3 linked regions of the Homo sapiens genome follow. The main gene of each other region encodes a partner of the protein of the gene in region 3 in a complex. Each region holds a gene or a part of one and is shown on either strand. Other genes may lie near its edges.

Region 1 (7,763 bases), on a different chromosome or scaffold from region 3:
CCATTTCTGTCCTCTCTAACCTCATCTCAGCTTAAATTTACCTATTACTAACAACACCCAGGAGGCATTTTCTATTTTCTAATTAAGAGTTCTTCCTTTTAATTCCCTGCCGTCTTGGGTGCCCTTGCTTTTACTCCACCAATAATTGCAAAGTATTTTTCCTTTTTTTCATATTCTCCTACCTTCCCTTCTCCTCTCCCTCCCCAACATATATAAATTCCCTAAAGATTGTCTTGCTAAACTTTTCATTATCTAAAAAACAGAGTCCAATGCTTCTCATGGAGGCACATTCATTAATATTTGTTAATGAAAATGTAGTCCATAGGGATAATTGATAAGTCAAGAGTTTACTATACTTTATCCTTCTCTAAGATATTCACAAGCACATTAGCATATTAATACCTTGAGAAGTATCACACCAAAGAGAACTTTTTAATTCGTACAAACTTTTATCAAAATTGATCAAAACACCCTTCTATTCTCTACATAATCTCTAATAATGTAACGTAAAACATAAAAAAGCTCATAGTCTATCCTTCCCTTCAGTTTTTCCCTAGATACTGCTCAGGCCACAATAAATCGGCCACATTTTGTTTCCCATCTTTACATTTTAGAAAATGAAAGACAATGAGATACACCACAGAATGAGTTACCTTATAAAGATTTGGGGCTTTAAAATTATATTTTAACAAATAAATATACCAACAAATGAATAGGGAGGAAGATCAGGCTCTTCTATAAAGCAGAATGTCAGCTAGTAAATGCAATTAATTCAGGCAAGAATCATCAACACATTCTAACACTAAATGGGTAAATGTTTGGAAACAGGGTATTTCCCCATTGTCAAACTATTTCCTTACTAATTACAATAGGAAAAACAGAATCTTTACAGTGGAGCAATTTGATAGACATCACCTCCACACTACCAGTAATGGACACTGCTATCAGGTGCTCCTTAATCTGAAGCACTGAGAAAACTACACTATCACTTATGTAGCAGTCCTGTCAAAAAAAAAAAAAAAAAAAAAAAAAAAAAGGAAAGAATAACCTGAATCAAATCATGAGGAAACAGATAAAACCAAATGGACTCTTCAAAAATGTCAATTTCATGAATGCTAAAGGCTGAGAAATTGTTCCAAACTAGTAAGTTTGTAAGTAATGTCCTTACAGCAAAAGACAGTTGCCATAAGGACATTACTGGGGATATTTCAATATGTACTACATACTATATAACAGGATTGTAGCAATGTTAAATTTCCCAAATTTCATTACTATGATTGTAAAAGTGCCCTTGTTCTTAGGAGACACAGGCTAAAGGTCCCAATGACCACAACCTATTTTCAAAGGTACACCAAAAAATTACATTACATTGTGTGTGTGTACATAACTGTATAGAGAAGTAACGAGCAAACTGGCAAAATGTTAACAGCTTAATTCAGGTGAAGAGTTGGGAATTCATTACAATATCTGTGCAGCTTTTGTATAGGTCTGAAAGTTTTCAAAATAACAAGTTTAATTAAAAATAATTTCATTATTTGACCCCAAATTAGGTTTACGGTCTTATTTAGCTTGGTGTGAAACATCAAGATTCATTCAATACTTATTCTACATTAAGCACTGATGAGATGTATTGCTGAACACTGTGTGATGAGTCAAGAATAAAAATGTTACAGACCTTGGATTTTATAGCACAGTGAAGGGGTTGGCCAACTACAGCCAGCGAGCCAAACTGGCCCACCTTCTGTTTTCGTAAATAAAATTTTATTGGATGACACTTACTTTCATTCATTTCTGTATTGTCATGGCTGCTTTTACCTTACAACAGCAGATCTGAGTAGCTGCAACAAAGATCATATGGTCCACAAAACCTAAACTATTTAATATTTGGCCTTTTACAGGGACCATACAACATAATCTTTATAGTCTCCAGCAACAGGTATGTCAAACTTTAATTTTGTACTTTGCAATAATATAAATAATGTTTATCAGAAACCCTTCCTTCAAATATCAATACTAAAAGCTTACTAAATCCTTAGAAATGCAAAATTGTCCTATAGCACAACTGAATTTAAGGCAAGAATAATTTGCTGAAGTATACTATATGTATATTCATATATGTATTTATATTTATATATATACACCATATGTATAATGTATTTCTATTTATATAATACAGTAGTGGCATGTTTATCTAGTTTCAAGTTAGTTACCAAGATTATGTATACAAACAGTATTTAACAGAAAGGTAGTATAACAAAGCACTTGCTCTGACATACACTTGTGGATCTCCCAAATATTATAGATATTTGTTCCCTTCAGTGAGTAAAAATTTTCTTTGCACTCTTAACGCAATTACTTTGGTAGTAACCTTTTTTCCCACAGGTAATCCAAATACAAAATTTGAACTAACTCAGGTCCAAATTGCCACCAATCTTAAATAAATGAAGTATTGAATAAATGAGTTATTTCTATCAAAAATGAATTTCATAGATTTAAATATAAAAGTGATCTACATCAGGCTGGGTGCAGTGGCTCACACCTGTAATTCCAGCACTTTGGGAGGCCAAGACAGGTGGATTGCTTGAGCTCAGGAGCTCAAGGCCAGCCTAGACAACATGGCAAAACCCCATCTCTACCAAAAATACAAAAAAATTAGCCAGGCGTGGTGGTGCAGGCCTGTGGTCCCAGCTACTTGGTAAGCTGAGGTGGGAGGATTACTTGAGTCCGGGAAGCAGACGTTGCAGTGAGCCAAGATAGTGCCATTACACTCCAGCCTGGGCAACAGAGCCAGACCCTGTCTCAAAAAAAAAAAAACAAAAACAGAAACATGGATAAATGAAAGTCAAAACCGAGTAGTAGAGACATGATGGTCCATCTGCCTTTGTATATGTCTTAAGTATCTGTAATATATAACGAACTCTCAAAATTTAATAAGAAAATGTCCCAATGAAAAGATGAGCAAAAGATGTGAAAAGGCACTTCACCAAAGGAGATAAGTTAGATGGCAAATGAGCACATAAAAAGAGTAACATAATTAGCCATTAATGCAAATTCAAGCCACAAATTAATACTATTATACATTTAATAAGAGTGGCTAAAATTAAGACTGCTCACACTAAGTGTTGACAATGATGATGAGGACCTGGAACTCTCATACACTTTTGGTGGGAATGGAAAATGATATAACCACTTTGGAAAACAGTTTGGCAGTTTTTCTTTCTTTCTTTTTTTTTTTTTTTTTTTGGATGGAGTTTCGCTCGTTGCCCAGGCTGGAGTGCAATGATGCAATCTCGGCTCACTGCAACCTCTGCCTCCCAGGTTCAAGTGATTCTCCTGCCTCAGCCTCCCGAGTAGCTAGGATTACAGGCATGCACCACCACGCCCAGCTAATTCTTTGTATTTTTAATAGAGACGGGGTTTCACCATGTTGGCCAGGCTGGTCTTGAACTCCTGATCTCGGGTGATCCACCCGCCTCGTTCTCCCAAAGTGCTGGGATTACAGGCATAAGCCACCGCACCGGGCTGGCAGTTTCTTAAAAAGTTAAACAGCCATTCTACTTCTAGATGTATACCCAAGAGAAAGAACATATATATTCACACAGACTTGTGTGTGAATGTTCATAGCAGCTTTATTTGTAACAGCAAAAAAACTGCAGATGATCCAAAAATCCATCAACATTTTAAAGGTAGAAAGCTGAGAAAAAGTTAACTTGCTCAGATTATAAAGAGAATAAATGGCAGGGCCAGAATATTAACTCAGGTCTAAAGGCTTACCAAGCCCAGTGTTCTTTCCCCTACACAAAACTATACTGAGGTATCTTCCAGAATGACTGCATGATAGATGCTCAAATACCAACCACATTCATATCAATAAGGCCAGAAAGTAAGTTAAGTTTGCTCCTTAGTCTAGGGAGATAAGAAGCTAAGATGACTTAAAAGTTAGGAGAGTTAAGAAATGAATGTGGAGGAAGCAGCATTGATGATGTCACCAGCTCAAAGATCTGTGCTAAAAGCAGAGCAAGTTCCAGACCCTCTTATAGAAATTAGAGGGAATACCTCCTCAGCCAAAATTCCATAGGTGTGCCATCCAGACTTCTGCCCAAAACACTAAGTTAGGTTTATTCTCAGCTCCAATTTAAAAACAACAACACAACTCTAATTCAAATTTAGGAACTTTCAAATTCTTTTACTCCAAAATATAAAAAAAAGATGTAATACAAACATAGGAGCAAGGTAACAATAGTTTAATAAACATACATTCATTGTTTTGAGGAGACTGAGAGAAAAGGACCAGAAATAATAAACCAGAGATCAAACAAATGTGGCAGCAGACTTCTGAACTTTACCTCCTGAGGTCTATTTATCTTTCACAGGCAGGAACAAACAAAAAGTATGCATTTAGGTGTCTTGGTTTTTTATTTTTTGGAGGGGGGAGGGCAGTGGATCGTGTAGCTACAGGCCCAAGCATATTTACAAAGGGGTTTTTCTCTCTGTCTCTCTCTCTCTCTCTTTCAATTTTATGTGGGAAGTTGTTAGCAGAGGTATCATTAATTGATCCAACACACATGTGGGTACCACTGAAACCATTTTAAAAGCACTCTTTTCTAAGATATCAATGATATTATCTCTAAATAAAGATCTCTCCATCCAGGCTTGTTGGCAGCAGTCAAAACAGGCTACCAGGTCTCACGACTCACCCTCCCAAATCCCTATTTAACAATACTCCTAAATATGATTCACGTTCAAGGGCACCTTCCAAAGGTTTCTGAATGATTCCCTGGCCACTACCAGATACAGCCCCAATATTTTGCTCCTCACCTCCCACCGGAAGCAAGGACTCTAAGCTTATCAGAACTGGTTTTGAAACATGGTAGGAAGGCCTGAAGATTCTGCACAGAGTGCGGTCTAGGCGGTTACCCTCAGTTAGTTCTGGACCCATCCTTCACTCTACTTCAACACCGCCCTTAAACCCGAAAAACAGCATAATGTAAAAGGATTCCAAAACTTAAATATGAAAAAAGTCTGTTGTATGGCATACTCAATAACATAGCTTCAAAAACTTTTCAACGTCATACTTAGTTACAGCTGAGATAAAAGTTAACGACTAAATAAGCTGTCTTATACCCAAGCTCCATCCTCTCTATCATTCTCCAGGTGTAAACTAAACCACATGCAGCATCCCAGATTAATTTTCAAGGGTACTTTAAGAACGAGTTCAAAGAAATTGCCTGTACAAGTTTGGGTTGATCAATATTTTAAACTGGGCCATTTAAGAAAATATTCAAAATATGATATTTAGAATCAGAAGGCCTAGCTTAAAATTCCGTCTAAACTTAGGAGTTTTGTTTCTTTAGTCCCTTTGGGCATTAGTCAACTTACTTATTAGTATTAGAATACCACAGCCTACACATCACAGGACTGCTGTGAAGAATAACCTGTGTATGAAAGGCACTGTAAACTAAGCGTTACATAGCCATTCTTTAAAAATAACATTCTTCAACATATTACTTTGATAAAAGCTTAAGTTCTAATGAAACTCCTTCAATGAAATTATTTTTACAAGCATTGGCTCATCAAATCTTAACCGTATCTTAGTCTCATTTCATTTTAGGAATCTACCAACTTAAATGTGAATCAAAATTGCATCTTTGGAAACTAAAACAGAAATCTGAAATAATTTTTTCTAAACATCTACAATTTTGTATTGTCTCCCATTATTTAAGGAACATAATTAAATATAAAAAGTTAAAAAGGGTTTACCCAACTCTGAAATCTGCTGAGATAACCTATGTTCAAATGGAGTCACTGGTTTGCTTTCAATTTGAAATTCAAAGTATTTCATGATACAGTACTGAAAGTTTCACTTTTAAACTTAAATACATATGGTTTTTATTGCATTATTCTCCTAAACTTTTTTTTTTTGAGACGGAGTCTTGCTCTGTCGCCAGGCTGGAGTGCAGTAGCACAATCTTGGCTCACTGCAACCTCTACCTCCTGGGTTCAAGCAACTCCCCTGCCTCAGCCTCCTGAGCAGCTGCGACTACAGGTGCACGCCACCACGCCCAGTTAATTTTTTTTTGTATTTCAGTAGACATTTCACCATGTTGGCCAGGATGGTCTCGATCTCCTGACCTCGTGATCCGCCCACCTCGGCCTCCCAAAGTGCTGGGATTACAGGCATGAGCCACTGCACCCAGCCTATTCTCCTAAATTTAAGAGTACCTGATAATGATTTCATTTACTTACCTTTATAAGTTACTTGATAAAAGTTTAAGTTCTAATGAAACTCCTTCAATGAAATTATGTGTACACACACACACACACACACACACACACAAATACCATCCATTTTTCCCTCATTAGGATTTTTTTTCCTCCAAAGGTTATCAGTCAAGTCAGTCTTTGACCAACCTTTTCCCCGACTCTGTGCCTCTGTACAGAGACGGGATTAAAACAAATCAAATCGAAAGACCTGAGACTCTTAGCAATGTCTGGCAATGCCCCTCTTTCAAGTCCTAGACTCCAGCTAGGTCCTTTCCTAGATCATCTGCACAACAGAACTTACTGTCTCTTCCCTCATAGTCCAGGTTCTGCATTTAGGAAGGTCAACCAAGATTCTAGAGCTTGACCAGAAAACAATTTCTTCCCATCCCAAGGGCCAACTTACACCTAGCTTGGCTGAAGTAGTAGGACTTGTTTACAACTACTCTGGAGGTTGGGCTCCATACTCTGGAGTTTTACCATAGACAGAGAAACTCAGGCTCACGAGATAACAACCGTGTTATAAGGGCAGCCCAAGCTCCGTTCCTCTACCTTTGGGTCCTCTACCTTCTCCAGCTTCTCCAGGATGTGACAGCTGTCTCAGTCCTTTACCAACCATCTTGCTCTCTAAGGAGGCACCATGGCCCAGTGTTCCCCCTCATTCTTTCTCCCTTCACAAGAGATGGGAAGTGGTCCTTCAACTGGCCATATGTCCAAAAGTCCTTTGTTCCTGAATATTCTGGGTAAAGGTATCACCTGTAAAAACTTTAGTAACTGAGAAAAATAAGCAATTACTCTAACAAAGCCTTCAACCAAATTATGAATATGCAAATAACTATTGTGCCTTCAATGTCTGTTTTATCCTAAATTAAAATGCACAGGAAACAGAATCTTTAAAAAGTTAGTTGCAGCCGGGCGCAGTGGCTCACGCCTGTAATCCCAGCACTTTGGGAGGCCAAGGCAGGTGGATCACCTGAGGTCGGGAGTTCGAGACCAGCCTGATCAACATGGAGAAACCCCGTCTCTACTAAAAGTACAAAATTAGCCAGGCGTGGTGGCACACGCCTGTAATCCCAGTTACTTGGGAGGCTGAGGCAGGAGAATCACTTGAACCCGGGAGGCAGAGGTTGCGGTGAGCCGAGATCGCGCCATTTTGCACTCCAGCCTGGGCAACAAGAGTGAAACTCCATCTCAAAAAAAAAAAAAATTTAGTTGCGAGCATTGGCAGCATCTTTAAGTACCTTCATTCTGTAAGGTTCAACATCAGTGTTTCCTTCTCTGCTCTTCTTTTAAGCTTCCCTTGCTCTTTTCTCATAACAGCAAACATAATCATAATCATCGCTGTTTACCAGGAATTGTTCCAAGTGCTTCAGAGGCACTAACTCATGTACAGCCTTGAACAACTCTATGAAGTAGGTAATATTTCTTATGCCTACTTACAAATGACAAAACTGAGGCATAGGGAGGTTAAGTGAGTTGCCCAAGTCTGCCCAAAAAGACAC
Region 2 (7,763 bases), on a different chromosome or scaffold from region 3:
GATCCAACCTATGGCTGATTCTGCATTGCAGCTGATTAGCAGATCAGCACTCTCACCATGTGAAAGTCTTCCAATAGATGCCATCATTGCCTTGAATCGTCTCTGAACTTGGAGACTGCTGGTGCAAATCTTATCACTTGATCCAGCCGCAATGCCTATCAAAAGGTCACAGCAGTGGCGGAGAACTGATGACTTCTCAAGGGCAATAAAGTTAGGCATATCTTTGAATCTGCTAGCATAAGGAGTACCCCTTTCCTCGTTCTCATTCCCAACCACAGTATTAGACCTCTTGCTCACACCAACACTCAGTAATGCCTGGTGTAACCCATCAAATATGAAACACAAGAATACTAAACTTGGGGTCACAGGGTGGAAATGAGATTTATGTGCTGGGTCTAGCATAGACTTGGCTGCTTTTTTAATGTCCTTAATATCCCCAATGCTGGGTTGGGGTTCCAATGCATCCAGTGGATACTGTCTGTTTTTCCCAGATAGCTCAAATCTTCCTTGAAGGTCAGGGAGCCCACTCCTGTCCATTGCGTCATCTCCTGGGCTGCTGGGCTGTGAGTCCTTTCTTAGATGAGACATTGTGGAAAATTGGTTCCGACTTAATTCTTTAATTTTGTTAAGAATCATAGGTCTAAAAGATCTTTTGTAAGATCTGTCACAGACCCAAACAAAAAGACTGTGAGAATTAACATAAGCATACAATTTAAGAAAATAACCCATTATTAGTCGCTATGACTTGACTCTGCACTTCTTTACCATTTTTCCAAAATACCTCACGTTCATGAGCAAAACAAAACATATTTTGCTTCATAAAAGAAATTTTTATCATGTATACATTTTAATAGTTTTTCTGTCAAGAAATATAGTATGGGATTATTTTAGTATCTTATTTAGCAACATAACTATATTCTTGGGAACATTCTAAAAACAAATTGACTGGGCTGGGTGTGGTGGTTCACATCTGTAATCTCAGCACTTTGGAAGGCCAAGGCGGGAGGATCACTAGAGTTTAAGGCTGCAGTGAGCTATGATCACTCATCACCGCACTCCAGCCTGGGTAACAGAGTAGTCTATGAAAGCAGAGCCAGATTAACCTTAAACCAATGGTTCTCAGCAGGGGACAACCTCCCCTCCCTGCCTTTCACATCTCCAAGAGACATTTGGCAATGTCTAAAGATATTTGGAGAGGGGAACACTACTGGCATAAGTGGGTAGAGGTCAAGGACAGTGCTAAACCTCTTATAATCCCCAGGACACCCACTCACAACAGAATTATCTGGTACAAAATGTCCATAGTTCCAAGGTTGAGAAATTGTATCCAAATTTAATTCTTACTTTGCTATATCTAAATCTTGACAACTGGAAATATTTTCCATCATAAAGAGAAAAGCCATCAAGTAGTTATTCCAAACATGGGAATTATGCCCTAGAGACACCCTGGAAAGGCATCTAGAATGGCATCTCAGGGCAATGAGTGCCACCACAGTATGTAAATCCAACAATATTAAAATTACAGTAAATCACCAATCTCTTTAATCCAAATCTCTTTAATGGAAAAAACATATAGATAATGTTATTAGTAATATTCTACTTTGGGGACTGAATGGTAGGTTCACAAGTATGTTATCACACTTAATTACATATTAAATAAATTCAGTCTATTTTAAGAATAATATATTAGAAGCAATAAAATGATTAAATATAGTAAATAATATACTAGAAATAGAAAAAATATACTTACTCTGAAGAAGGATAAACACAGCTAACAACCATCACATTCTGCAATAACAAAAATCAGTGATTTAGTATGAAGAAAAGTACTACAACATAAAGTTTCATCATTTTTGTTTCTAAAATCACTCTGGTGGGTTAAATTCCCATTGATTCTAATTTTGCTAGTAAAGGAAAATGGTTAAAAATGAAAACTGGTGAAACAGCAAAAACTAAAACAATAACAAAGGACCAAAAGAGAATATCCTACTCAGCCACTAATTTTTTTTTTCCTATACTTATTTTTTACCCTAATCTAGTTATTCTAGACCCGTAACATCATACACTATACGTAGTAGAGTAACTAAGCTCAGATGGAATCAACAAAGATGTTGAGAGATTGAAGTACTTAAGACATATGTAATTGATTTTCCTTACAAAGCAACACCCAATCCACGGCTTGTTGTGTTGCATCATATATCCCACAGAAAGAGACTCAAACCTTTTTTGTAATATATTTATGATCTTCCCAGTAAAAATAACTTTACTAATATTCAGTGTTCACTGAAAGTTTAGTATGAGTCACAGTAAGTGTTTTGCATTTAATCCCCCTCCCAGCCCTATTATTAACCACATTTTACAGAGGAGAAAACTAACTGGCCCAAGGTCACACAACTATGAAACACTGCAACCCTGATTTAAAGGCAGGGCACCTGGTATGACTACTGTAACATATTGCTACTTTATCTGAAAATCTCCAAAATGTAATTATTACAACTCCTGGAGCTGAAAAGTAAGTACTGATGAGCCATCTCAGTTTCCTGGCCTTTGGGGATATTATTCAATTGAGTGTACAGAGGATCAACAAAATATATTAATCCAGTATGGCCACAAAAACTACTGTAAATCACTATGTAATGGTTTTTGATTCCTGTTCCCAGGGTAAAATAAAGTGGATTTGAACCAGATCCTTAAATGAACAGGGGAGTGTTTCCGGACCAACCATCAACTGAAAATTAGAACTCATTAGTCCAATCTTGGTTCTCACAGGGCTTCCTTCATTTTTCACTCAAGACAAGTCAATTTCTTACTTTTCATTCCCTTAAACACCTTGAATCTTTGTTCTTCACACCATTTCCTTTTTTTTTTTTTTTTCTGAGACAGAGTCTCACTTTGTTGCCCAGGCTGGAGTGCAATGGTGCCATCTCAGCTCTCTGCAACCTCCGTCTCCCAGGTTCTAGCAATTCTCCTGCCTCAGCCTCCTGGGTAGCTAGGATTACAGGCGTGCACCACCACGCCCGGCTAGTTTTTGTATTTTTTGCAGAGACAGGGTTTCACCATGTTGGCCAGCCTGGTCTCGAACTCCTGACCGTGATCCACCCACCTCAGCCTCCCAAAGTGCTGGAATTACAGGCATGAGCCACCACACCCAGCCCACACCATTTCCTTTATTCAGAATACCCTTCCCTTATTCTAACACTCCCTCAACCCCCTCCACACACAAACACTAATGTTTATCTCTAAATCTGACCTGCATCTTTCTACTCAATACCTCATTTACATGCTTGGCACCAGTAAGTTTCCAAAGTTATGTACCTTTGAACTCCAGAATTGAGAAAATGAATTCCATGTGTAAGTTTATAAAACACTCTATAAAGTTAAAATAGCAATTATAACTTCACAGAACCTTTAATAAGTTGATATACACTATGAATTTCCAAGAAATAATAAGCTGCTTTCACCAAACTTCAATGACCAACACACAAACCCTCCTCTACCCGGTCCTATTAAATCTCTCTGTAAAACAGAATGCAATTTGGAAAACAATTTGGGAAACTCAAGGTAGGCTGAAAAACATATTTCAAGAAGTGGTACCCGAAACAGATCTTACTCAATGTTCTTTTCTAAAATAAAAGCTATTACACCACAGCATAATATAATTCCAATAATAAAATAAATACCTTTTCTACTCCTCTGAGAAATTTGTCTGTTCCTGTATAGTTTCTCCTTGGATCTGTTAACAATTCACATAGTCGCTGAATAGTAAAAGGGATACTGCAAAAAAATATAATTTTACAGTGTGAGATCACTGATAATCAAGAAAACGAGGAACATTATTTCTTTTGCTAGGTAAAGCTGTATCTAGTCACCCATGTATTAAGCTACAAAAGAAAATGCTATAATAGGGAAATAAATGGATGAGTCATTTAAAAAAAGACAATAAAATAAGCATACCTTTCTATTTAACAAAAAAACCATTCTCCCTTCCTTTAAAAAGCAATAAAGGTGGGGGGGGAGGGAGGGGGGAATGGTTAACGGGTACAAAAATATAGTTAGAATGAATAAGATCTAGTATTTGATAGCACAACAGGTTGACTACAATAATTTATCGTACATTTTAAAATAACTAAGAGTATAAGTGTACTGTTTGTAACACAAAGCATAAAGAAACGCTTGAGGTGATGGATAACCCATTTACCCTGATGTGATTATAATGCATTGTATGGCTCTATCAAAATATCTCATGTACCCCATAAATATGTAAACCTACTATTTACCAACAGAAATTCTTTTTTAAAAAAAAAGCAACTTAGAACACCCAAAATCAACAGAAAGCTTCAAAACTGAGGAAAAAATTTTTATATAATAGAAAATTCTAAATCCTGATAATTTGATTTTTAAGTTTACAAGAGAGGTAACACAAATAATAATCAAGTTGGGGGTTATTTAATATATGTATTTTTCCTCAAGTATTCTTCTGCACTCAAAGGTTTCTTTAAAATGTTCAAACAAAACTACAAATATTTTAAATGTGGTTCTGCTCCATTATTGCAATTTCATATATAATCTAAGTTTAATCCAACTTAAAATATACACAACTTTTATTTAACTTTACCAAATAATTTCACTATACCTCAATTTTTCCTTGACCACAGTAAATACAAAACTGATATAAGTTGGAACTAAAATCATTTTATAAATATTTTTAAGTTTTGAGCTCATGTAGCTATTAGCATTCATAAGAATTACAAGCTGAACAGAACAGCAAAGTTATGAGCACGAGGTACGACAAACGCAGCTAACAAATACAAACAAATCTTCAGACTTCAGTGTCTGCCATACCAATCTATTTATTCTCTTTAATGAAAAGAATTACAAAGCCTCAAATTAATAGTTAACATTCACAAAGGTCTTCATTTTTTATAGGCAGTGTGATACAGAATTTTCTTCCACCACAAGGTATAGTAGTTAGTGAGTTAAAATGCCAGGACTCAAACTCAGTCTCTCTAACTTCAAATCTCATGTCCTTTCCATTGTACCACACGTATTTTACAAAATTATAGTTGTTTATTTTCTAACTGGATAAACTACATTTGGTTCTCATATTCTTTGTGTCAATACTATTCTTATGTTCAAAGTATAAGATGTGCAAAAAATTCTGAAAGTGCTTAAAGTGCATGTTATTCATATGAGAACAAATGTTTTTAGATAAATTTGAGAGTCCAAGAATCAATCTTTTGTCTCAAACCTAAAATCGAATCCAAACCTAAAAGTGAGAAAACTGTTCTACCAAAAGACAAGGCACAGAATAAAAGATTAAATGTTTGCCTGATATTCCAAACATTCAGAAGCAACTAGAAATTCCTCTGGGTTTCTGAGGAAGAATACTTTTTTGCTTTTGAAAATCTACTCAGAGTGAAGTACAATGTCAAAATGAAGAATCCTTTTAAATGGGGAAGTACAAAGCACACCAACAGCGTTACTAAGTATGAAACAATAAGCTTATACATCTTTTGTTTCATTCCTATAAAGACAACCATTAGAAATCTATAGCTAATACACAAAACTAACTCTACTTTAAAAATGTTTAAGCATTTTCCACATGTATAACAAACAGTATTAGTTTCTCAATTGTCTGTCCGTGAAACCCAGTATTATCGTGGATTTCAGATTAGTGGTATAACTCACCTTAGCTCCTCTTCTAGTTCATGGCTCTTCAAACCTTACACACACAACACACCTAAGCTATTTCCTCATTAATCACCCCATAGTGATACTGTCATTAAAATTTATTATTCAAAATATACAAAATAGCACCAACAGTTTGGGTATTCAACAAGTGTTTGGGTATTCAAATAGTACTTAACTGAAAAATACTGTCTAGTCATTATGCTTTTTCTTCCTACTAAAATTCTTTCCCACATTAAAACCTAATGTTTTCTCACTAATTAAAATTAGTTTTAACAGATGAATATTTTAAAACTTCTTGTTTAACAACATGTACACTGAATGCTTTGGCTAATTTTCTTTAGAAATGTAAGTTAAATTGTAGCCAATTATTAATATTTTATGTGTTGTTTAATATTAATACTGCTTTGGGAGGGGGGTATGTGTTTACATAGCAATACCAGCAATGATAAAACGAGTTTAAGTTCTTAGACAATTTCAGAAGCTTTTTTCAAAAGATCCTTATTTCAAAAAGTAAAAGAAGCTTTAAAAGTCATTTTACCAAGTATCCAATAGATGGCACTAAAATGTCACACAACACTTCCTTTTCTCACACGACAGGCTAAATCCCAACCAAACACTTTCTGCAAATCAATGGATCCACTGGAAATATTAGTATGATAAATGAACGTAACAGCATTGAAAGGTCTCTTTACATACAGACTGTACTTTTAAACTTATTCCATAAATATAAGAGCCTATTATAAACTAGAAATACCAACCTTGTTCAACAGCAGTCAAAAGACATGTAAATAATTACAATTACAGTAATAAATAACAACACTGTATAAAAAGTGCCATGGAGACAGAATAAACTGTATGCCAAGCTTAGTAAGCGTGACACTGGGAAAACTTAGTGTGAGGTAGGCCTCTAAAAGGAGGCACAAGAATAAACCAGAAAAACCAGTACAAAATGAAAGCATTTGGTACAAGTATATGAAAGCTCTGCTCTCTGATACTCATCCATTAGACATAGCATACAAAATAGTTTATTCTAACTTCTGAAAATATTAAGGCTTTTCCCACACATACTAAGAAAAGCAAATATAGGGAGAGGAGCGTTAAACACACATGCCACTCATTCTCAATGAAAAGTCTATTCAGAAATCCTTAAATTTGGGGGGAAGTGGTGATCAGATGTTCATTAGCAAAGTTATACTGTAAAATAAAAAACCCTGGGCCAGGCACGGTGGCTCACGCCTGTAATCCCAGGACTTTGGGAAGCCGAAGCAGGCGATCCCCTGAGGTCAGGAGTTCAAGAACCAGCCTGGCCTGTAATCCTAGCTACTCGGGAGGCTGAGGCAAAAGAATTGCTTGAACCTGGGCGGTGGAGGTTGCAAGTTGCAGTGAGTCGAGATTGAGCCACTGCACTCCAGCCTGGGTGATAAGAGTGAGACTGTCTCCAAAAAAAAAAAAGCGTTTGGTTTACTCTGCAATGATATATCATCTGATTTATTCATATTGTAAAATGGAAAACTAAGATGATATAAGGAACTGAAAAAAGGACATGACTAGCTAGCATCTCAAATTTTTTAAAACAGTGCCTACAACATCCAGTAACATTTTTTAAACCCCCCGCCCCACACATTAAGGATCCACCTTTGCTAAATATATATATATATTTTAATACACACACACACACACACACACACACACACACACACACGCTACCCCACTAGGAGACCTTACTCAAAACTGAATTTACCTGAGTCTTCATGGGTCTCATGGGTCTTGTCTGAAAACAAGGGTTCTACAAGTACACTTCAAAGATTATCATGACGACTAAATACGACATAATGTATATGGTATATTAAATCACCTAACAGTGCCTAAAATATTTCAGAAAGTTCAATAAATCTTAGTTCTTATTGTCATCATTCCATCTACTCTTTGATAGAGATTGTGGGAAGGCACACATGGTCCAAAGACCAACAAAACCAAAAGTATAGGTCTGTCTTTAAAAATACTCCCTTTAATTCCAAGGAAAATAACTTACCCTAATTAATAGGACCACACATTTTACCTTATATATCTTA
Region 3 (8,526 bases):
TATTTATGCCTTTTTATTTTAAGCCACTCCTTTTTGGGGAAAAAGGATGATTTCATATAACATATGAACAAGAAAAATGTTTCATATAAAATTTAAACTTGTTTATAAAAAAAGTAACCAAGGGAAATACATTTGTTATAAGAACAACAGAAAGTCTAATATCCTTAACTAAAGATTCATCGACAATAATATAATCCAATTTGCAGAGAAGAGCAGATTCAAAAGGCTAATATTTAGCCTTACTACTAATAGAGTATACACGATTGGAAATGAGATATTATATACTGTCTCCCCTACCTAACTGGCAAATACTAAAAATAATTATAGCACTGGCAAAGCTGCAATTGGCCACGCACACTCATACACAGTTTATGGTAACATAAACTGGCATAGACTTTATGAAGATGAATTTGACCGTATGTGTGAAGACGTTCTACTACTAAACTATCCAAGAAAATAATTTAAAATGCAGTAACACTAAGTAGTCAGTGAAATATTAGAATCAACTTAAGTGCTCCAAAATAGAATGGGGGACAGGGAGGAAGGATGCTTACATTTATTATCATAAGCCTAAATAAAATGAAATTCTCTTTGAGAGGCCGAGGTGGGCGGAACATGAGGTCAAGAGATCGAGACCATCCTGGCCAACATGGTGAAACCTCGTCTCTACTAAAAATACAAAAATTAGCTGGGTGTGGTGGCACGCGCCTGTAGTCCCAGCTACTTGGGAGACTGAGGCAGGAGAACTGCTTGAACCCGGGAGGCGGAGGTTGCAGTGAGCTGAGATCACTCCACTGCACTCCAGCCTGGCGACAGAGTGAGACTCTGTCTCAAAAAATAAAATAAAATAAAATAAAATTCTACAATCAACATTTTGGTAACAGAAAAATTCTAAACAATTCATTGAAATTGTTTTGATTATCCAAATTTTTTTCAGTAAACATGAAAAAATCTCACAGACGGGAAAAGCAAAGTTTGTGTGTAATGCTGTTTCACCTACCTTGGTGGCTGTTACTGACGTAGGCAAGTTTGTGGTTTTGGAAGAGGATCCATTAGAAGTTGCTGGTGGTATCTGAGCCACTACAGATTTACTGTTTGTTCCATTAGCAGCACTGGCAGAGTGGGAGAAAGTAAATTTGAAGCCACCAGGAGATGTCCTTTTGGGAAGGTTTTCCTTGTCTTCACTTTCTTTTGCTAAAGCAAAAGTAAAATTTTGAACGTATATCAATAAATACTGCTAAGTCAAAACATCTAAAAACAGCAGTAATTAAAAAACTTATAAAACATTGCTGCCCGGGCATGGTGGCTCACGCCTGTAATCCCAACACTTTGGGAGGCTGAGGCAGGCAGATCACCCAAGGCCGGAGTTCAAGACCAGCCTGACCAACATGGAGAAACCCCGTCTCTGCTAAAAATACAAAATTAGCCGGGTGTGGTGGCGCATGTCTATAATCTTAGCTACTTGGGAGGCTGAGGCAGGAGAATCACTTGAACCTGGGAGGCAGAGGTTGTGGTGAGCCGAGATCGCACCACTGCACTCCAGCCTGGGCAACAAGAGCGAAACTCCGTCTCAAAAAAAACCAAAAAAACAAAAAAAAATAACACCAAAATTAATTGCCTTTGTTTCCTAAGAACTTTTGAAAAAGAACATGATGTGTACAGTGATGATATGGTCTGGCTCTGTGTCCCCACCCAAATCGCAAATCAAATTGTAATCCCCACATGTCAGGGGAGGGACCTGGTGAGAGGTGACTGGATCATGGGGGTGGATTTCGCCCTTGCTGTTCTTGTGATAGTGAGTTCTCACGAGATCTGGTTGTTCCAAAGGGTGGCACTTCCCCCCTTGCTCTCTCTCTCCTGCTGCCATGTAACACATGCCTTGTTTCCCATTCACCTTCCGCCACAAGTTTCCTGAGGCCTCCCCAGCTATGTGGAATTTTAAGTCAATTATACCTCTTTTCTTCATAAATTACAGTCTCAGGTAGTTCTTTAGAGCAGTGTGAAAACGAACTATACAGAAAATTGGTAACAGGAATGTGGTACTGCTATAAAGATACCTGAAAATGGCAGGGCGCAGTGGCTCACGCCTGTAATCCCAGCACTTTGGGTGGCTGAGGAGGGTGGATCACTTGAGGTCAGGAGTTCAAGATCAGCCTGGCCAACATGATGAAACCTATTCTCTATTAAAAATACAAAAATTAGCTGGGGGTGGTGGTGCACACCTATAATCCCAGCTGCTCTGGTGGCTGAGGCAGGAGAATTGCTTGAACCCTGGAGGCAGAGGATGCAGTGAGCTGAGATTGTGCCACTGCCCACCAGCATGGATGACAGAATAAGACTCCATCTCAAAAAAAAAGATACCTGAAAATGTGGAAGCGACTTTGGAACTGGGTAATAGACAGAGGTTGGAACAATTTGGAGGGCTTAGAAAAAGACAGGAAGATATGGGAAAGTCTGGAACTTCCTAAAGACTTGTTGACTGGTTTTGACCAAAATGCTAACAGTGATATGGACAATGAAGTCCAGGCTGAGGAGGTCTCAGATGGAGGTGAGGAACTTATTCGGAACTGGAGTAAAGGTCATACTTGGTATGCTTTAGCAAAGAGACTGGCGGCATTTTGCCCCTGCCCTAGAGATCTGTGGAACTTGAACTTGAGAGAGATGATTTAGGATATCTGGTGGAAGAAATTTCTAAGCAGCAAAGCATTCAAGTGGTGGCCTGGGCTGGGCACAGTGGCTCATGCCTGTAACACCAGCACTTTGGGAGGCTGAGACAAGCGGATCACGAAGTCAGGAGTTGGAGACCAGCCTGGCCAACAGGGTGAAACCCTGTCTCTACTAAAAATACAAAAATTAGCTGGGCGTGGTGGCACACACCTATAGTCCCAGCTACTTGGGAGGCTGAGGCAGGACAATCAGTTGAACCTGGGAGGCAGAGGTTGCAGTGAGCTGAGATCATGCCACTGCATTCCAGCCTGGGCAACAGAGAGAGACTCCATCTCAGAAAAAAAAAAAAAAAAAAAAAAAAAAAAAAAAAGAGGCCTTCTGGCGGTTTCTAAAAGCGTATGCTCATATGCATGAAGAAAGAGATGGTCTGAAATTAGAATTTATATTTAAAAGGGAGCAGAGCATAAAGTTTGGAAAACTTGCAGCCTGACCATGCAGTAGAAAAGAAAACCCCATTTTCTGGGGAGAAATTCAAGCTGGCTGCAGAAATCTGAATAAGTAACAAGGAGCCAAATGTTAATTCACAGGCCCAGAGGCCTAGGAGGGAAAAATGGTTTTGTGAGCTGGGCCCAGGGCCCTGCTGCTCTGTGCAGTCTTGGGACACCCTGCATCCCAGGTGCTGCAGCTCCAGCCATGGCGAAAAGGAGCCAAGGTACAGCTTGGGCCATGGCTTTAGAGCGTGCAAGCCCCAACTCTTGGTGGCTTCCATGTGACACGGGGCCTGTGGGGTAGAGGCAAGAACTGAGGTTTGGTAACCTCTGATTCTCAAACCACCTAGATTTCAGAAGACATATAGAAATGCCTGGATATCTAGGCAGAAATCTGCTGCAGGGGCAGAGCTCTTATGAAGAACCTCTACTAGGGCAGTGCGGAAGGGAAATGTGAGGTTGGAGCCCCCACATAGAGTCCCCACTGGGATACTGCCTAGTGGAGCCATGAGAAGAGGGCCACCATCCTCCAGACCCCAGAACAGTAGATCTACCAACAGCTTGCACCATGCACCTGGAAAAGCCACAGGCACTCAACTCTAGCCCATGAAAGCAGCCATGGGGGCTGTACCTGGCAAAGCCATAGGGGCGAAGCCAGCCATGGCCCTGGGAGCCTACCTGTTGTATCAGCATGCCCTGGATGTGAAACATGGAGTCAAAGGAGATTATTTTGGAGCTTTAAGATTTAAAGACTGCCCTGCTGGGCTTTGCACTTGCCCAGGGCCTGTAGCCCCTTTGTTTTGGCCAATTTCTTCCATTTGGAATGGGAGCATTTACCCAATGTCTGTACCCCCGTTGTATCTTGGAGGTAACTAACTTGTTTTTTATTTTATAGGATCACAGGCAGAAGGGATTTACTTTGTCTCATATGAGACTTTGGACTTGGACTTTTGAGTTAATGCTGGAATGAGTTATGGGGGACTGTTGGGAAGGCATGATTGGTTTTGAAATGTAAAAAGGACATGAAATTAGGGAGGGACCGGGGTGGAATGATATGGTTTGGCTCTTGTCCCCACCCAAATCTCATTGTGAATTGTAATCCCCAGGTGTTGGAGGAGATGACTGAATCATGGAGGCAGAAAACCCCCTTGCTATTTTTGTGATAGTGAGTTCTCACGAGATCTGGTTGTTTCAAAGTGTGTGGCACCTCGGCCGGGCTTGGTGGCTCATGCCTGTAATCCCAGCACTTTGGGAGGCCAAAGTGGGTGAATCATCTGAGACCAGGAGTTCAAGACCAGCCTGGCCAACATGGTGAAACCCCATCTCTATTAAAAATATAAAAATTAGCTGGGTGTGGTGGTACATGCCTGTAATCCCAACTACTTGAGAGGCTGAGGCAGGAGAATTGCTTGAGCCCAGGAGGCAGAGGTTGCAGTGAGCCGAGATCACGCCACTGCACTCCAGCCTGGGCAATGAGAAGGAGACTCCATCTCAAAAAGCAAACAAACAAACAAAAGTGCATGGCACCTCCTCCTTCACACTCTCTGTCTCCCGCTCCACCATGGTTAAGATATGCTTGCTTTCCTTTCGCCTTCGACCATGACTGTAAGGTTCTCGAAGCCTTTCAGCCATGTTTCCTGTTAAGCCTACAGAACTGTGAGTTAATCAAACCTCTTTTCTTCATAAACTACCCAGTCTTAGGTAGTTCTTTTTAACAGTATAAAACGAACTAATACAAGTGGTAAGTCTTTATTAGCTAGAATCTTAGAAATCTCAGTATTAGAAAGGACCTTACGGATCATAACAAAATTAGCCATTCTATGCTAGAACTCTACATTGTGGTATCTAGCACATACATCTAAAATCTCATTAGCTGTCTGACTCTTCCTTTTATTGTCTCCCTGTAGCTTCCACTCACTGACTCTACACTTCTTTACTCATGGTAAAAACCTAGTAATTTCTCTCACAAGTCAATATTCCAAATGCCTAAAGACAATGATCAAGTCCGTAAGTCCTAAATATTCCAGGTTCCTTTTTCTGTTTGTGTTATGACATAGGTGTCCAATCCCTTTTAACATCTGGTTATTATTTTTATATATGATTCTTAACAGCATCTCACTCAACACTGGATACAGAACTTCAAATATGGCTGTACTGCCTCTTTTGACAATAGTCAGGGCAGTACCTGTAATGAGTAAAGGCAGAAGAATTTGTCTAGCAAAGGTACCGATTTCTTAGGATATTTTAATAAGCTTTTTGCTCCGCCACGCTGAGGCAAATAAAACTTATCAAACTAATGAGTTGAAAATGAGTACGAACAATAGTTTCAAAGAAAATGTAATAAATGAAATTAATTTTCTGAGAATTGTCTTTAGAAAATGTCACATTCAAAATCACAAACTTACATAATAAATCCAAGAAAGGCTTTTATCTTCTAAGACATAAATTTTTTCTTTTGTTTTTGAGATAAGGTCTTTCTCTGTTATTAAGCTGGAGTGCAGCGGCAGCTCATGGCTCACTGCAGCTTCGACCTCCTGGGCTCAAGTGATCCTCCAGCCTCAGCCTTCCTAGTAGCTGGGACTCCAGGTAAGTGCCACTGTGCCCATTTAATTTTTGTGTTTTTTTGTAGAGACAGGGTTTTACCATGTTACCCAGGGTGGTTTGGAACTCCTGGGCTCAAATGATCCACCTGCCTCAGTCTCCCAAAGTGCTGGGATTACAGACGTGAGCCGCCATGCCCAGCAAGGTATAAATTTTAATTAAATATTTAAATGATATACTCAGGGCAGTATTCCAAAAAATGGTAATTCCTCAGGCCACAGAAGTAAAATGGTTAGTTCTTTTGAAAGATATATTACTAGCAAGATCTTCATTTTATAAAACAAGTTAAGCACATCTGAAAGCCAGGGGAAGTTTTACTTTTTCACTTCTCTTGTTAGTATATCTTTATGTAACTTTTGTAATTTTAAAATTTCAAAGAGCAAAGTTACTTGTTTGAGCTCAGTTTATCAGCTGTAAAAGACACAGGCAAAGTACTCTAGAAGGTTTCTATGAAGCTATATGGTCTCTGTTATTACTGAGAATTTCAGTATAGAAATAAAGCCAAGACTATTCACAGAAAGAAAAGTATAAGTAGATAATTCAATTTCTAACTAGCAAATTAACAGCATTACAAAATAGCAAGTTTGAAGAGAAACATTTTAAACATGAAAAGAATTCCCAGACAGATTTGGAAAAAGTACATAATTTTAAAAGAACACAGTTTGGTATAAAATTTTTGTCTTTCTTGCTTTGTAAACTATAAACAAACCTTCACAAAGCAACAAAATAATTTCTGCACTAAATAAGAGGGTACACTGTGCAAAAATTCCGAATTTTAATACCTTTTTTAGTCTCCATAAACTTTTCATAATTATCTGGAAAATCATCTTCTGGCTTAGGTTTTTCCACTGGTGCCACAACTGCTTTTCCTTCCTCTTCTTCATCTTCATTAAACCACATTTCTTCATCCTCTTCCAAGGCTTTTGCATCTCTGCGAAATCTGTTACTACGCAATATAGATGGTACACTGTAAGAAATATATCACAAATATTGAGTAATGATTTAAAGTTCATCATCAGATTGAACTGAAGGAAAAATATGTATAACCAAGATGAACTGAAGTAATTTTAACTGACTATAATTTATATCAAAATAATCTCTGTAATGATAGAAGATGTAGCCAGAGAACACTCCAAAATATTTTAGGATGTTGTAAATTAAACTAAATATTCTTCGTAAGTTACAACATGGAGTAGTAATTCAACATATAAATGATATGGGGTAGGGGGGACGCCTTACCCTCCTATTCAACTCTATGCTATCCAGTGATGGAAAGAAAATTCCTCAGTAAATTTCACATGGAAAATCTGAACTACAAACAATTTTGGACACAGTTTTGTAGGCTATAAAAGCAGTATACTTAAACAATACCTGTTCAGTTTCTGATTTTGTCTGTCTTTTTCTTGCTCATATTTAGTCTTCAATCCTTTGAATGTCTGAACATATTCAATCGATTCAAGTGCTTTATAAAAGTTTTCAACTATATGGGCAGTAAGAGACTTGATATCTTCCTGTATAAGCACAAAATTTACATTTAAAATATAATACAATGCTTGTTAGAAGAAAAACTTTAAAATTTTGTTTTGTAGTTCTAAAGCTGATCAAAAAAGGTTTTTCAAAATCACCTTCCAAAATGTAATGTCCTGGTTTCTTTACACATGAGTCAGGACTGCACAGAAAACTTGAAAAAAAAGGAGAAGCAATTTACTGGAGTCCTTTTATAGGACTATAAAGAGCATTCGAAAAGTAAATAGATTTATTTTACATCTTCTATTTTTTGTATATATATATATATATATAGCAGTTTACAATTTAAAAAGCACTTTTACATAAAATTTCATTTGATCTTCACAACAATTCTATGAGATAGGTTTTATTATTCCCATTTTAGAGAAAAACCAAAATTGAGGCTCTAAGAGAGGCTGGATGGTTTGATCCAGAGCACACGGCTGGTTAGAGGGCAGATGTTAAAATTACATTTTCAAAATACTCACGGTGATGGATACCCCAAATACCCGGACTTGATCATTACACATTCTATGCATGTAAAAAATAAATACATGTACCAAATACATCTGTATAATATTATGTATTAATAAAAGAAAAACATATTTTTCAACAAACAGGTCTTATTTAATGACTTCCTGTTTAACTGCTATCAAAATGGGATATGGTTGTGGTGGTTTTCTTTCTGGTACATTTGTTAAGTTTTCAAATGAGCCTAACTCTGCCACATATATCATATAGGAGCTGGCAAAGGCTTGATGACAAAGAGATCTCTCTCAAGCCTTTCCCACATCAGAGGCTGGCTTTCACACACACAGAAGAAGAAAAAACAACAGAGGACACGTGTTACCTAAATAATAAGAAGCAAAGACTTCTCTGACTATATTATACACACAGATCTGATAAACTATCTGGAATTCTACTTGTCTATTCCTATAGTCTTCCAATAGTATAATATCTGTGAAATAAACTAATTGATAGTAATAACTTCTAAATTCTAAACCATCACTGCAAATGCATGCATGCCCAGTAGGCTTATTTTAAAAAAAAAAATTAAAGTTGTGATTGAGGACTTTACAGATAACACTACATAGTAAGAAACACACAGGTCATTTCTTGAAAAGATACACCATAATTTGGTTGCATTATGGATTTTAAGTCTTAAAACTAGTTCTCCTGTACTTCTCAATTGAAAAAAAATACGCAAATCAGAAATTAGAAACCTAGGTAATGGCTCTATGTTATATGTGAAACGAAAAAATAC

Evidence for each region. The genes of interacting proteins can lie anywhere in the genome.
Region 1: PPP4R3B (region 3) and PPP4R1 share a complex: the UniProt entries of both Homo sapiens proteins name them as parts of the PP4 complex.
Region 2: PPP4R3B (region 3) and PPP4R2 share a complex: the UniProt entries of both Homo sapiens proteins name them as parts of the PP4 complex.

Annotation. Positions count from the first base shown.
Region 1 is NC_000018.10:9,604,560-9,612,322, forward strand, and holds part of PPP4R1 (serine/threonine-protein phosphatase 4 regulatory subunit 1), read right to left. Parts: intron 1-7,763. UniProt on the Homo sapiens protein: Regulatory subunit of serine/threonine-protein phosphatase 4. May play a role in regulation of cell division in renal glomeruli. The PPP4C-PPP4R1 PP4 complex may play a role in dephosphorylation and regulation of HDAC3.
Region 2 is NC_000003.12:73,055,048-73,062,810, reverse strand, and holds part of PPP4R2 (serine/threonine-protein phosphatase 4 regulatory subunit 2), read right to left. Parts: intron 3,775-7,763; coding exon 3,681-3,774; intron 1,789-3,680; coding exon 1,751-1,788; intron 1,153-1,750; exon of another isoform or gene 730-1,152; coding exon of another isoform or gene 1-729. Other genes in the region: EBLN2 (endogenous Bornavirus-like nucleoprotein 2), read right to left, coding at 1-729. UniProt on the Homo sapiens protein: Regulatory subunit of serine/threonine-protein phosphatase 4 (PP4). May regulate the activity of PPP4C at centrosomal microtubule organizing centers.
Region 3 is NC_000002.12:55,557,775-55,566,300, forward strand, and holds part of PPP4R3B (serine/threonine-protein phosphatase 4 regulatory subunit 3B), read right to left. Parts: intron 8,077-8,526; exon of another isoform or gene 7,929-8,076; intron 7,438-7,928; coding exon of another isoform or gene 7,420-7,437; exon of another isoform or gene 7,382-7,419; intron 7,268-7,381; coding exon 7,128-7,267; intron 6,724-7,127; coding exon 6,539-6,723; intron 1,195-6,538; coding exon 1,001-1,194; intron 1-1,000. UniProt on the Homo sapiens protein: Regulatory subunit of serine/threonine-protein phosphatase 4 (PP4). May regulate the activity of PPP4C at centrosomal microtubule organizing centers.